3 separate regions of the Homo sapiens genome follow, and regions 2 and 3 are each reported to be linked to region 1. Evidence: microRNA targets listed by miRTarBase, many of them from high-throughput screens and not tested one by one. Region 1 holds a microRNA gene; each other region holds the end of a gene's coding sequence.

What was found. The annotated mature microRNA hsa-miR-3605-5p reads UGAGGAUGGAUAGCAAGGAAGCC and lies in region 1 at 1,131-1,153, shown strand. An mRNA with a match to its seed (bases 2 to 7 or 8) in the 3' UTR can be bound and repressed. Matches are read on the target gene's strand: a 7mer-m8 pairs with bases 2 to 8, a 7mer-A1 pairs with bases 2 to 7 and ends in A, and an 8mer does both.
Region 2: the mRNA of ADAM12 is a reported target of hsa-miR-3605-5p. Seed matches in the 3' UTR shown: 7mer-m8 at 2,310-2,316, 7mer-A1 at 1,085-1,091, 8mer at 538-545 and 7mer-m8 at 416-422.
Region 3: miRTarBase lists TWIST1 as a target of hsa-miR-3605-5p. Seed matches in the 3' UTR shown: 8mer at 3,002-3,009.

What each region holds. Positions count from the first base shown.
Region 1 is chr1:33,329,602-33,333,601 of GRCh38, reverse strand. MIR3605 (microRNA 3605) reads left to right here and starts at 1,110; the gene lies at 1,110-1,209. PHC2 (polyhomeotic homolog 2) reads left to right here. Exons shown (of 15, transcript NM_001385109.1): 11 at 1,198-1,327; 12 at 2,140-2,254; 13 at 3,390-3,531. RefSeq lists enhancers at 3,018-3,518, 3,519-4,000.
Region 2 is chr10:126,013,800-126,018,089 of GRCh38, forward strand. It overlaps ADAM12 (ADAM metallopeptidase domain 12), which reads right to left. Exons shown (of 23, transcript NM_001288973.2): 23 at 1-3,540. The coding sequence ends at 3,480. Among named protein-coding and RNA genes, the nearest start is that of FANK1-AS1, 43 kb to the left of the region's middle.
Region 3 is chr7:19,112,920-19,117,164 of GRCh38, forward strand. TWIST1 (twist family bHLH transcription factor 1) reads right to left here. Exons shown (of 2, transcript NM_000474.4): 1 at 3,752-4,245; 2 at 2,549-3,212. The coding sequence ends at 3,794. It overlaps LOC124901597 (a long non-coding RNA gene), which reads left to right. Exons shown (of 3, transcript XR_007060241.1): 3 at 1-326. Among named protein-coding and RNA genes, the nearest start is that of TWIST1, 2.6 kb to the right of the region's middle. RefSeq lists enhancers at 3,724-3,983, 4,007-4,245.

The sequences.
Region 1 (4,000 bases):
GGGACAGAGCCTTGAAAGGGGAGTTAATGAGATTGAGGGGCACTCAGAAAGGTCACGATGGAAGCCTAAGACTAACAAGAAATATCCACGAGCCACGAAGATGGGTTATTGACCAAAGCACCCAGAGCTGCTTCTGTGCAGTGTGCACTGGAGACAGTGGTGCTGCCCTGTGGGTGTGGAGGAGCCCAGAGCCAGCGGCACACCAGCCTCTGTTCTGATGAAAAGTATCTGGCTGTTGGAGAAGACACCTTTCTGGGATACCATCTGCCTTTTCCTCATTCTTTGGTTCCATGAGTGGTTTGATTAGTCTGCAGAAGACGCGGAGCTTGATTAACTGAGATGGGTGAACTGCTCCTGTAAAATGCCAAAAGACACATAGCTTCTTGTCTTCTTTCCCACTGGAGGTTGTCCAAGGCCAGTGGCAAAGAAATCTGCCTGGAACACCTTAGCTAGAAGTGGCTCTCGCTCTGTTACATCCCTTCCCTGTTAGACTGGGCCTCCTAGAGTAACACTAGAAACCACCTGATCTCATGGGGTGGAGGCAGATTGCATAGCACCCCCAGCATTGCCCTAGAGTCGGTGCCACGTGACTGGCTACCAGGCTGCCTAAACACAGGCCACAAAAGGAGATCTAAACGCGTAAATAAGCTGCTCTGGGGTTCTGACAACTGAGAGTTCATTGGCTCTGTGGCCCAGGGTCTGTTTTTTCCTGCTATACTCTGTGGCGGCCTGTACCTCTGGCTTGGGTCAGGCATTGGGGTAAGGTGGAGAACAGTAAAAAAATCAGAAAATGGGTGCTGAGTCTCTCTCTCGTATGTACAGCCTCACACAGACTCCGCTCTGTCCTTGCCTGGAGATGCGTGGGTACTGGGTCTTGGTGCTTGATCTGGCACTGTGGGAAACCTGATCTCAGCCCTTAGACTCTTACTGGAATAGACATTTTCCTAATCTCCTGAGCCATCCGTTGGTCCTGGACAGAAGCCATCCCTGTACTTTGCCCATTAGCATCTTACCTCGTGAGCCAACCAGCAAAATAGGGCCTTGAGCCCAGCACACTTGGATGATGACATGGGGGAAGGTTTGAGGAGGGCTGGCCTCTGTGCCTGGATACTTTATACGTGTAATTGTGATGAGGATGGATAGCAAGGAAGCCGCTCCCACCTGACCCTCACGGCCTCCGTGTTACCTGTCCTCTAGGTGGGACGCTCGTCCCTGCTGGTGGGGAATCTCAAGAAGAAGTATGCACAGGGGTTCCTGCCTGAGAAACTTCCACAGCAGGATCACACCACCACCACTGACTCGGAGATGGAGGAGCCCTATCTGCAAGGTGGGCATCTCAGACCCTGAATCTCTCGGCCTCCCAGCGTGGCTGGAAAGGCAGGCCTCACACACTTCCTCTCTCTGTTTCCCCAGAGGAACCCTGAGCCAGCGAGTCTGTAAACATTTCCCCCAGCACCTCCTCAGCCTCCTTCCCTCAAAAAGAGGGATAGGGGAAATCACGGGAACCATGTGTCCTCTGCTCCCCCAATCCCCCTCCAGCCAACCACAGGATCCCAAGAATGGCTTTTCCTGTGGGAATCATTGGCAAGTTTTAGGCATGACTGTAGGAGTGGCCCCAGGCAAGTCCTGCCCTTCGTCCCTGCCTTGAGACTGGGGCCAGCTCTAGGTCACAGCAGAGACCAGGCAAGGCTGCTCTTTCCACATGAAGCACTGACAGAGCTGCACAGCTGCAGGAGCGTGGGCTCCTGAGGTCTTTTACTGGGTCAGCAGCCAGCTGCATAGATCAAGGTGTGATGATGCCAGCGGAGCAGCTGTGACAGCATCCAGAGTATTTCCTGGGGGCTCCTGCTTTCTTCCACAGTCATTTGATGCTGATTCTTCCCCACCTGTGTTTTGCCTCAGACTCAGACCACGTGGAAGAAAAAAATGTCAAGTCTACAAGGGGCATCCCCAGACACCCTTGAGTGCATTCCAGGGGTGAGAACCACTGGCATTTTCCATGCTAGAATGCTGCTGTATGTCACAGCTGTGGGAGCAGGAGGACCAGGCAGGATGGAGTAGGGAGGCCCCGTGGTGGGGCTGGCCACAGTCCTGCAGGAATTTCTCATTCTCCACCCTACCCATTTCTATACTTTTCAGAATCCAAAGAGGAGGGTGCTCCCCTCAAACTCAAGTGTGAGCTCTGTGGCCGGGTGGACTTTGCCTATAAGTTCAAGCGTTCCAAGCGCTTCTGTTCCATGGCTTGTGCAAAGAGGTGAGTGGCCCCAGCCCCCTCCATTTCCCCAGGACTGCACTTTATGTCCCACCTCCTGCCATTAATAGTCTACCCCAGGAGGTCCATAGGGGTGGCTTCTCCAGTTTCCTAGTTCCTCGACCCACCTGGAAGCAGGATGGCATCCCTAATTCAACAAGCACGAGAAGCCAGAACCCCTAAGAGCAGGTGGGAGAGAGCAGCGGGAGTCCAAGGAAAAGCCGCAGTGCTTTGGCTCGGCTGGCCCTCCTGGGCTCCACTGGCACCCATTCGCCTTTCCTAGCATTGACAGCCCCTGCCTTGTTAGGGTAAGCCTTACCCAGAACCACAGCTATAGTGTTCCCTTGGTGAGCTCTCGCCCAGCATAGATCACTAATGGTCATCATAAAAACCACTGCCATTTCCTGAGAACCTGCTGTGTGCTAGTCACTGTGCCAGTCAATTGATACGATTATCTCATCTTCAAAATAACTCCCAAGACAGGTATTACTATTGTCCCCTTTATACAGGTTAGGAAGCCAAAGTACAAAGGAGTAGTAGTGCCTCAGATAACATAGCTAATAAGCCATGGGCCTGGGGATTTAGGCTTGTCCAATTCTAAAGCCATGTGTGGTCTTTGTACCACAATGGAAGCAACAGCTGACCTTGAAGCCCTGAAATCCCAGAAGAGAAGAAATCTCTAGGTCCCAGACAGAGGTGTTCTGCATGCCAAGCTAGAGTTCAGCTATCTTCAGCCCTCATTCCCCTCAGGCTGTTGGAGCAGCCAGGCCACTCCCCAGCAGGACAGTGGACAGTAGTTTCCCGTCACAGGGTAACATTTATAGTGGAATAAGTCAGGTGTGAGCTTTCGCCCTGGTCCAAGTCCAGGTGTCTCAAACATTTTACAGACATTATCTCATGTTGTAAGACCAGACCTAGAAAGTGAGTGGTATTACCCCCAACTCCAGATAAGGAAACGGAGGATCAGGGCTTAAGTGACTTAAACCCAAAGTCACACAGCTAGTAGTTAGTGATGGAGTTAGGATCTGAACCAATAGATGGACTCAAAATTTGTCAGACAGCTTGGCTGTGCTCATTCTGCCTACGGCCCATAAGCACAATGACTACTGTGACATCCCCTGTTCCCCTGTCCCTGAAGGTACAACGTGGGATGCACCAAACGGGTGGGACTTTTCCACTCAGACCGGAGCAAGCTGCAGAAGGCAGGAGCTGCGACCCACAACCGCCGTCGGGCCAGCAAAGCCAGTCTGCCACCACTTACCAAGGATACCAAGAAGCAGGTAAGAGGCGGGCAGAGCCTGAAGCTCCATCCCCACAGTCCCCACAGCTTCCCTTCCATGGCCCTCGACACCACGGTCCCCTCCAGCTGCCGACTTCAGCGCACTCTGCTGTGCTCTCATTCCTTGTAGACCTGTCCAGTCGAGCCTTCTGCACCCCAGTAGGTCCCTTCATTTAGACCCATGGGTGCTTACAAGGTTCCCTGCCCCCTTCCGTGGCCTTGCCTCAACATCACCCCACCTTCCAGTTTGCCTCCATCCTTGGCTTCTGGGGCCACGGAAATGGGGTCTCCCCTGGGCTGCTCAGGTAACCTCCTGCCTTACGTGGAGGGCTGGGTGAGAAGGCAGCCTCCACCCTTTGTTTTGCCACCTTTTTGCCTCCCTGAACACGCGAGCACAGAGTTCTTGAAGGTCTCTACCAGGAACATGGGTATTCAGTCATTAAATATTTTTTAGCACCAGCTGTATGCCA
Region 2 (4,290 bases), not on the chromosome of region 1:
CTGGCTTCTAGCATGGAGAGGAGAGGAAAAGGGGTCCTGCAATGTCCCCCAGCAGCCTGTCATTGTGTGTGAAACTCCTAGCCTGAGAGCCCCACCTCTGGTCAGCACTAGTGTTGGGAGACTTCTGGGAGGGATTGTGACTTTCAGCTGGGTAACTGGTGTCTGGCTGAGGCCATCTTGAGCGCAGTGAGGAAGGATCTCCAGCCTGAGTGTGCCGTGGGCCCCCCGAATACATAGGGGAGCCCTGCAAAGCAGTTTTGAAATGAGTAGTACATCTCACGAAGAAAGTCTGCAAGAGGTCGAGGTGCATGAGAAAGATCTGGCCCTGCTGCCCTGGCGCCACCTTGTGCCCTTTCTGCTGCTGGGGGTCTCATTGGCTCAGAGTGCTTAGTAAACATCAGTGGCGAGGGGGCAGGAGGATGCTCAGCCCTGCCAGTCGGCCCAGCACCAGGCTCTTTTTAGCACCGTGGAGACCATAGGCTCCTTAAGAACATTTTGACACAGTTTTAGCCGGTTTTTTTTTTTTTTTTTTTTTTTTGAGGATGCATTGATGTATTGATTTGCCTGGGAACAATGGCCTATAGTTCAGCCTGAGAATTCTCATAAAGTTAAGAAGGCATAAAAATGCCCCCCCCCCGAGACTCGTCAGGAGTATTGACTCTCCTACAGTTTAATTTGCTGCTTTTGTGGTTTCTGTGATGTCATCCCACATGTGTAAGCTGGAAAAATCCACGCTGTGAAATGTAACCTCCTGTGTGTATTTCCACAATGGAGAATGTTAGGCTTCGTTTCCCTCGGTTGCTACACATCTGATTACATGTGTCAGGAAAACAAACTTAAAAAATTTCAGGAGACAAACCTTTCAGCGGAATTGCCTGGAACCCATGAAGTGAGGTCATAGAACCTACAACTATAATAAGCTGTAGGAAGAAAAGTAGCCTCTGGGCTACTTTGTGTCTAGTCACATTGACTTTCCAGGTGATGGCCCTACAAAACTCAAACCACCTCTATTATTCATGCCTATACAGTCTTTTAAAAAAATACTAGATTGCCATTGAAATATAAGTATTGATTTTTTTTGTTTTGAGGATATAAAAAAGAATACTCCACCCCGTGCCTCCCCCAACCACAAAACACCCTGGTTATTGGTTCCTAAGTTATGTTAAAATGGAATTTGCTGCTAAATATGCTTCACTTGATAAATACTGCATCTTGGAAGGATTAATACTGTCCATATTGTAAGGGAATATTAGTTTAAATATGTTCTTATTCAGAAATAAAATGCATGGCTCTATAATAACACATTAGTACTGTAGAGATAAGAATGTGTCATCAGCCATGGCCCCTAAGTGGCCATTGATGACATGGCATAAGATCACAGTTTTAACCTCCTTTAATATCAAACTCTCCTGGCTCTCTGAAATAGAAGCATAGGAATTACAGCTAAGAACAAACAACAAAAGAAAAACTCAGTTCATATCCTCTTATAATTGGAGGAAGGGCTAACATGCCAGATCTAAGGATTTGGGCATCTAAAAAGACAATGCCCACGTAATGCACCATAAAATTCTGTAAACCTTTTTAATAGTATATATATGTTTGGCTTTAGTACAATTACCAAGTGTAATCAGTTACAGTAATTCTGTATGTATCTCAGCAGTATTATTTTCCAGCATGGCTTTACATTTTAAAGAACTTAATAACTATAGAATAAACAGATGCATGCTATACGAGTTGGAATGTATTAGAGCTGGGTTCCCTTTTGTGTGTGTTTGTGTCACGTGTTTAGTTTATCCATAGTCATGAATACTATGTTGCCTAGATACAGTGGGGAACACCGGGAAAGTGAAATGCAGTTTTGTTTTCTGGAAGGCAAACCAAGATTCTTGGTACATATTTTTCTGTTTCAAAGCATAGGAAAACTGTTGACCCCCAAAAGAAGGCTTTCTCATAAAACACTCAGAGTGAATTATGTAACTGTTGTCAATTGTCTTCTAATGTGAAAACCAGTCCAGAAGACAGAGGCATCATGGCATTTTACCTTATCTGAGTATTTTTGTATTTCTCATGCCATTAGTCACTTTAAAGACCTTGTGAAACATGGCTCCCTAGTCAGGCATTTGAAGAGTGAAGAGTTCAAGGGGATGCTGCCCAAGCCAGCATCTCATAATATTTAGGAAGTTGATAAGCAAGTTGATTTCCTTATCACATTCTGTGATGCTCAACAGGTAGGTTGCAAGTGTTTAAGAAATAGGTTCAGACTCTGTTAAAAGCATCTTTTAAAGATTCCTGCAGCCAAGTTGGAAAAAGAGGATGCCCCATAGAGAAGGTTCTTTGTCCAATATCTACGAATAATGATAGCAGACATGAACTATACCCATGAACATCACATTCCATTGGTTGTAGTTTTTGCAAGCATAAAGAGTCTGCCTAATTGTTAATAAGTTGAACCTTGCAGTAAACAGACTTGATTGACTAGATCTGGTTAATGGTTCACATCTGAAAATAGTTGTGGTCCCATGGAAAGCCTCATCTGTCTGAATACAGGATCATTGTATTACAGTTTGTGGTGATTTGCTCAGCTCCAAGCAGTATAGGGAGGTGGCGGTTTGCAGTGCCTGGGCAGTAGGTTTCTTACAGAAACACCACCTTTCCCAAGCTAAATAACCTACTGGTGGCAGTGCTCTAGAAAGGACAGCGAGAAAAAGAAGTGCTTGGCATTTCTATCAAGCACCGCCTTGAGTGACACTACAGACCCCTTCCAAACATGCTCACGGCTGGTCAGCTCAGGGTCAAGTTCTGGCTTGTCTAGTGTTCCAGTCTCTATCCTGGTGTGGCTACACCTTAAGATTCCTGTCTGCAACCCAGGTTCTCACCAAAGCTTCCTGGCCAGAAGCCAGATTTCTCCCAGGTGTCCCTGGGAGCCTGCCTGCCAGTTGTCAAGGGGCACAGGGCCTCCCTGAAAGCCAAACACAGCCTGGACCTGAAGCCCCTTGGCTCTGGCCTGAGATGGGGAATCCAGAAAATCAACTGAGATTCTACTTGGGATCTCTTGAGCTGCATCTGGTACCATAAGCACAGCTGGGGGTAGTTGGGGGACTGCTTTCCAATAAGGCCTTGATCAGAAAGCAAACACATCCTGTCCAGAATCCCATCAAGCAGGATATTTCAAGTTCACTAAAATACTAAAAGCACAACAAGCCTTCCTGCCATGGAAAACTCAGTGATGGTAAAAATGCCTACTACAGCGCACTGCACTGTAATCAACATTCTGCATAAATTAATAATTTACAAGTACCTGAGCAAGTAGACAGAGCACCATAGCACAGCACAGCACTGACGGCAGTAGCTCAAAGTTCTTATAGTAATGATGTTTTAAACATTAAAAAAAATCCTAAAAGTTGGTACAAAAAACTCCAACTGGAGCTGAAAGATAGTGCAAACTTCTGTCTTCACTGTTGAAAAAAGGTGTCGGCTTCTCACTTAATATAGGCGGTGTGGGTGGATCTGGGCACTTGGTGTGGATATTGTGGAGCAGGTCTGAATGAAGAGAGGAGAAAAAAAAATGATCAGAGACCTTGAGAAGTGATTCTGAGGATAGAGAGGTCTGGGGTTGGAGATGTATTCTGATAGTCTGAAGGGTTTTCTGTGTCAGATACCACTGCCCCTCATAACGGGGGTGGGAAACCTGTCTCCAAAGCCGCACTTCCCACCCACAAGTCAACTCTAGACCAGCACTGTCCCACAGAAAAAATGTGAGCTACACAAGAAATTTTAAATTTTCTAGTAGCCACATGAAAAAAGTAAAGAGAAAGGTGCAATTAATTTTAGTAATACATTTAACTCAGTATACCTAGAGGATTATTTCAACAGGTCATCATCAATAGAAAAAAATGGATAGTTGACATTTTAGGGTACTAAGTCTTCAAAATACAGTAAGACTTTTACCAGGCGCAACATGCCTAGCAGTCCCTGCATCCCACAGCACAGCTCCAGAGAACAGGGAGCAAAGGTGGGCACCCAGTATCCCTAAAAAATGAAATGTGCAGGACAGGACCAAAATCAGCAACTGACCAGAGGTAAGATTGGCCACAGCTTGAGGGCATTTAAGAAAAAGGGCTTCCCCTCATTGTTTTCATGTAAAGTAGTGTTTCTTCCTCAAATAGAACAAGAAAAATAACTTCAAGATCAACATGCAAACCACAATGAAATAATTAGGATGCTATGCAATTTTTCTCTATTTATGAAGTTGGGAATTAAACAATTGTCCTGACCCTTTGACCGCCTTTA
Region 3 (4,245 bases), not on the chromosome of region 1:
CTACTTTTTTGCAAGAGGCCAAATGTCCCTTAAAAAGCTCCATTATGAATATGAACCTTAAGACCGAAGGGTCAAGAAGCTTGTGCCGTTGTTGAGTGTGGGAAAAAATTTACACACATCGTGCAAGTTTCTGCTCCTTAACATTATTTTATTAATAATACGTTCCACTTTGGGGAGGGGAACCTGTAACTGTGCGTGAATTATCATCTGGACATGTGCTTCTGTGAACAAAAGGGGAAATGTGCATATGGGTAAAAAAATTACTGCTTTCTTATAACTAAAGGCTATCAATCTGACCAACTTATAAATAAAAGTAATCAATAGCACAGTAAAGGAAACATTAAATTTTCTACAATTTACCCAAGACAATTTAATACAATACTTTCCCCTAGCAAATGCATTCTGAAGGAAAAAGATCCCAAGTGAACCAACACATTAATTGGAAAGCCTTAGCTTCTTATTTCCGAAAACAAGAGGTAATTCATTCTATGTGTTCTTTAAATAAGGGTAGGTAGCAAAAATAAAATGAAATAACATAAAATCAAAAGAAGATATAATGGTGGAGGAAAAGAAACAGGTGGCTTCATTTCTATTCTAAAAAAGAATTTCACGATTTATGTCTTGTGTATACAGGGGTAGGGATTAGAATCTGCAAGCTGGAAACTGCATTCCAGTAGTTAATATTTTTCATTGTGCAGTCGCCTCATTCAAAATAAAATTACCACCTTTTTCATTCATTTATTTCTCTGAAAATCTGGGGGGAAACATTACCTTCAGATTAGTATTTAATATTACTATAAATATGGCATTTGCTTTTCTCCAAAGTGTTTCCCCTTATGAAAAAAGTAGAAAAAGCAAAACACATTAAAAAAAGAAAGAAATAAAAGAAAGGCAAATGGAGAGCTACCTTTCTTTGACACATCTAGTTCTTATATCCAGAGTTAAGATAACAATTACCTTCTCAGCAGTCATGGCCAGCTCCATCCTGGTGTACCTTAAGAAATCTGAAATATCAAATAGTCAGACCAAGCTAGTGAACAAGGAGACTCCCCATGAATAATTTAGAAAATGGAGGTGGTTGGATGATACATACAAAAAAGAATTACCAACCTAATGCTTTCCCTCATCCTCCTAGGGCACCCTCCTTACATTTCTAACCTGCCTTACACACAACACACACACACCCCCAACAAATACACCAACACATAATCGCCTTCCCTTTCTGTTATTTGCTAAAGGACTATCAAAATAAAAAAATAATAATACTTCTCCAAGCTTTCACTAACCTTTTAATACAAGTCAATGCTGCAGACTCCTTATTGTAAAATATAGTCTGAAATATTAACAATAAATTCATAATATTCTTATGTCAGCATTCTATGGTGCTGTGTGAAGAAGAAAACAAAAACCTTCAGGCAATAAAATAACTTTGACCTGAGCTAAGCAAAAACGATCTGTTTGGATACATACACTTATTAGTCATTGTTTGAAACAGGCACCAAAATGATTTTCCAGTTTGAAAGCTTCCCCAGTTACACTTGGATGCAGTAAATCGGATGTAAAAGCTAAGAACTGATACAAAATCACTATTTCTAATAATGTTAATTATAAAAGCCAGTATGTTCCTGGCCCACAAATAATCAGAATGAAATAAAAAATCAAACACCCCCGTTTGCCCATTATTGTTTTACTTAACTTCAGATTGTGTGTGTGTGTATGTATGATCTCACCAGGGAAAAATTCTGTGTAATTCTGGATAAAATATAACGCTAATGAACTGACTAGTAACTGCATAGCTGTAGTATTTAAAACTGTGATTATTCCAACTGTGATTATATCCAGTTACCAAGGATACTGAAAGTTCAGGATCTTCATTTTTGTATATTATTCCACAGCCTTATATTCTTTACACATAAAAAAAGAATGATGCTTCCCAAATAGCGTCAATATAGCGATATATTAACTTTTCTTTTTAGCAAACATGACACTAAACGTCATATTCATTCATGAGAGAAGAGTTAAGCAAATTACAAATGGAATTTTCTCTTTTCTGCTGATTTACACTTTATTTTCTATGCATTTCTGGTCATTTCTATATGTGTATAGATAATTTTCATAACACTATATATGTTTTCACTGAAAAGAACCTGTTATTTAGGAATCTTCACAAAGAGTGAAGAGCATGACAAAAAGTACATAATAAGAGAATAGTGCAGGTTTTATACTCCTTATTTGCATTTAACTGTTTTAACAACTATCACCTCAAAATAAAAAGGAGGTGAATAGCAAATTTGTTAAGTTTTTGCTGTTTGGAGACAGTAAGAGATGAAGAGATGCTACTAAGCCCTCTGAATACCAAACTGGAATAATAATAAAGCTGTCTTTTAAAATAACATGCTTGTGCCTGTCAGTAGCTGCTTTATTTGAGTTTTTCATTGCTTTGTTTATATTAGTGCCCCCTCCCTCCTGGGTGCCTCTAGAATTAAACAAGCAGGTATTTACCACCAACTTAATCTTTAGTTTTAAAAATATAGACCAAACTCTAAGGTTCTCTAAATTTTTTATATTTATTTATTGCAGAAAAATATACAAAGATATTTACAAAACAATCATAAAAATATGAATGCATTTAGACACCGGATCTATTTGCATTTTACCATGGGTCCTCAATAAATAAATAGAATGTTGTTTTTTGTATTTTAAGTTTTTTTTTGTTTTTCCCCTCAGAGGAAGGATGAAAAAAAGAATTAACTGACTATGGTTTTGCAGGCCAGTTTGATCCCAGTATTTTTATTTCTAAAGGTGTTCTTATAGTTCCTCTGATTGTTACCATTTTAAAATAGAGAAAGTCCATAGTGATGCCTTTCCTTTCAGTGGCTGATTGGCACGACCTCTTGAGAATGCATGCATGAAAAAAATAAAAATAAAAACATTCTTCGTCAAAAAAAAAAAAAAAAAAAACACAAACAACTGTTCAGACTTCTATCAGAATGCAGAGGTGTGAGGATGGTGCCGCTGCCCGTCTGGGAATCACTGTCCACGGGCCTGTCTCGCTTTCTCTTTTAAAAGTGCGCCCCACGCCCTGTTTCTTTGAATTTGGATTTTGCTCTTCTAATTTCCAAGAAAATCTTTGGCATATATTTTTATTTTTAGTTATCCAGCTCCAGAGTCTCTAGACTGTCCATTTTCTCCTTCTCTGGAAACAATGACATCTGCAAAAACCCAGAGGGGGGGGGGGGAGTCGGTTATTGTTTAGGTCTCTGCGGCTGTTTTCTAAGACTAGTGAGCACTGTTCTTATCACCACCACTGAGAAATTAAGCTGAACAACCTGGAAGGATTTCAGCCCAAGGGCAAGAGGAAGTGGGTGGGTGGAAAGGAGGAGGAGGTGGAATTTGTTTTAAAACATTTGTTTTAAGGAGAACAAAAATTGAAAGCCGAAAGAAAGGGTGGCGCTGACAAAACGGTCCTTACCCGTGACCCTGGGTGTCTCTGTCTCCCCTCCTGTCACGCACACTCACGCGCACACACACCCCTCACCAGGGCGCATCCCCCTGGAGACTGCTCTCCCTAGCGGGGTCAGACCGGCCTTCCGGGGACGCTGGGGGCGCGAGGCAACGGTGCCAAGTGAGGTGGGAAGGCTGAGCGGAGAGTGGGAGAGGGGAGGAAATCGAGGTGGACTGGGAACCGCGGCCTGGCCGGCCTGCCGTCTGCCACCTGAGAGGCGAAGGGGTGCAGCGGCGCGGTCCTTACCTAGGTCTCCGGCCCTGCTGAGGGGGTGGGGGGCTCCGCCTGCTAGTGGGACGCGGACATGGACCAGGCCCCCTCCATCCTCCAGACCGAGAAGGCGTAGCTGAGCCGCTCGTGAGCCACATAGCTGCAGCTTGCCATCTTGGAGTCCAGCTCGTCGCTCTGGAGGACCTGGTAGAGGAAGTCGATGTACCTGGCCGCCAGCTTGAGGGTCTGAATCTTGCTCAGCTTGTCCGAGGGCAGCGTGGGGATGATCTTCCGCAGCGCGGCGAACGCCTCGTTCAGCGACTGGGTGCGCTGGCGCTCCCGCACGTTGGCCATGACCCGCTGCGTCTGCAGCTCCTCGTAAGACTGCGGACTCCCGCCGCCGCTGCTGCTGCCGCCGCCGCCGCCCGCGCCGCCGCCGCCGCCACAGCCCGCAGACTTCTTGCCGCGCTTGCCCTGGGCCGGGCTGCCCGGCTCGTCGCCGCCTCCGACGCCCCCACCCGCGGCTCCGC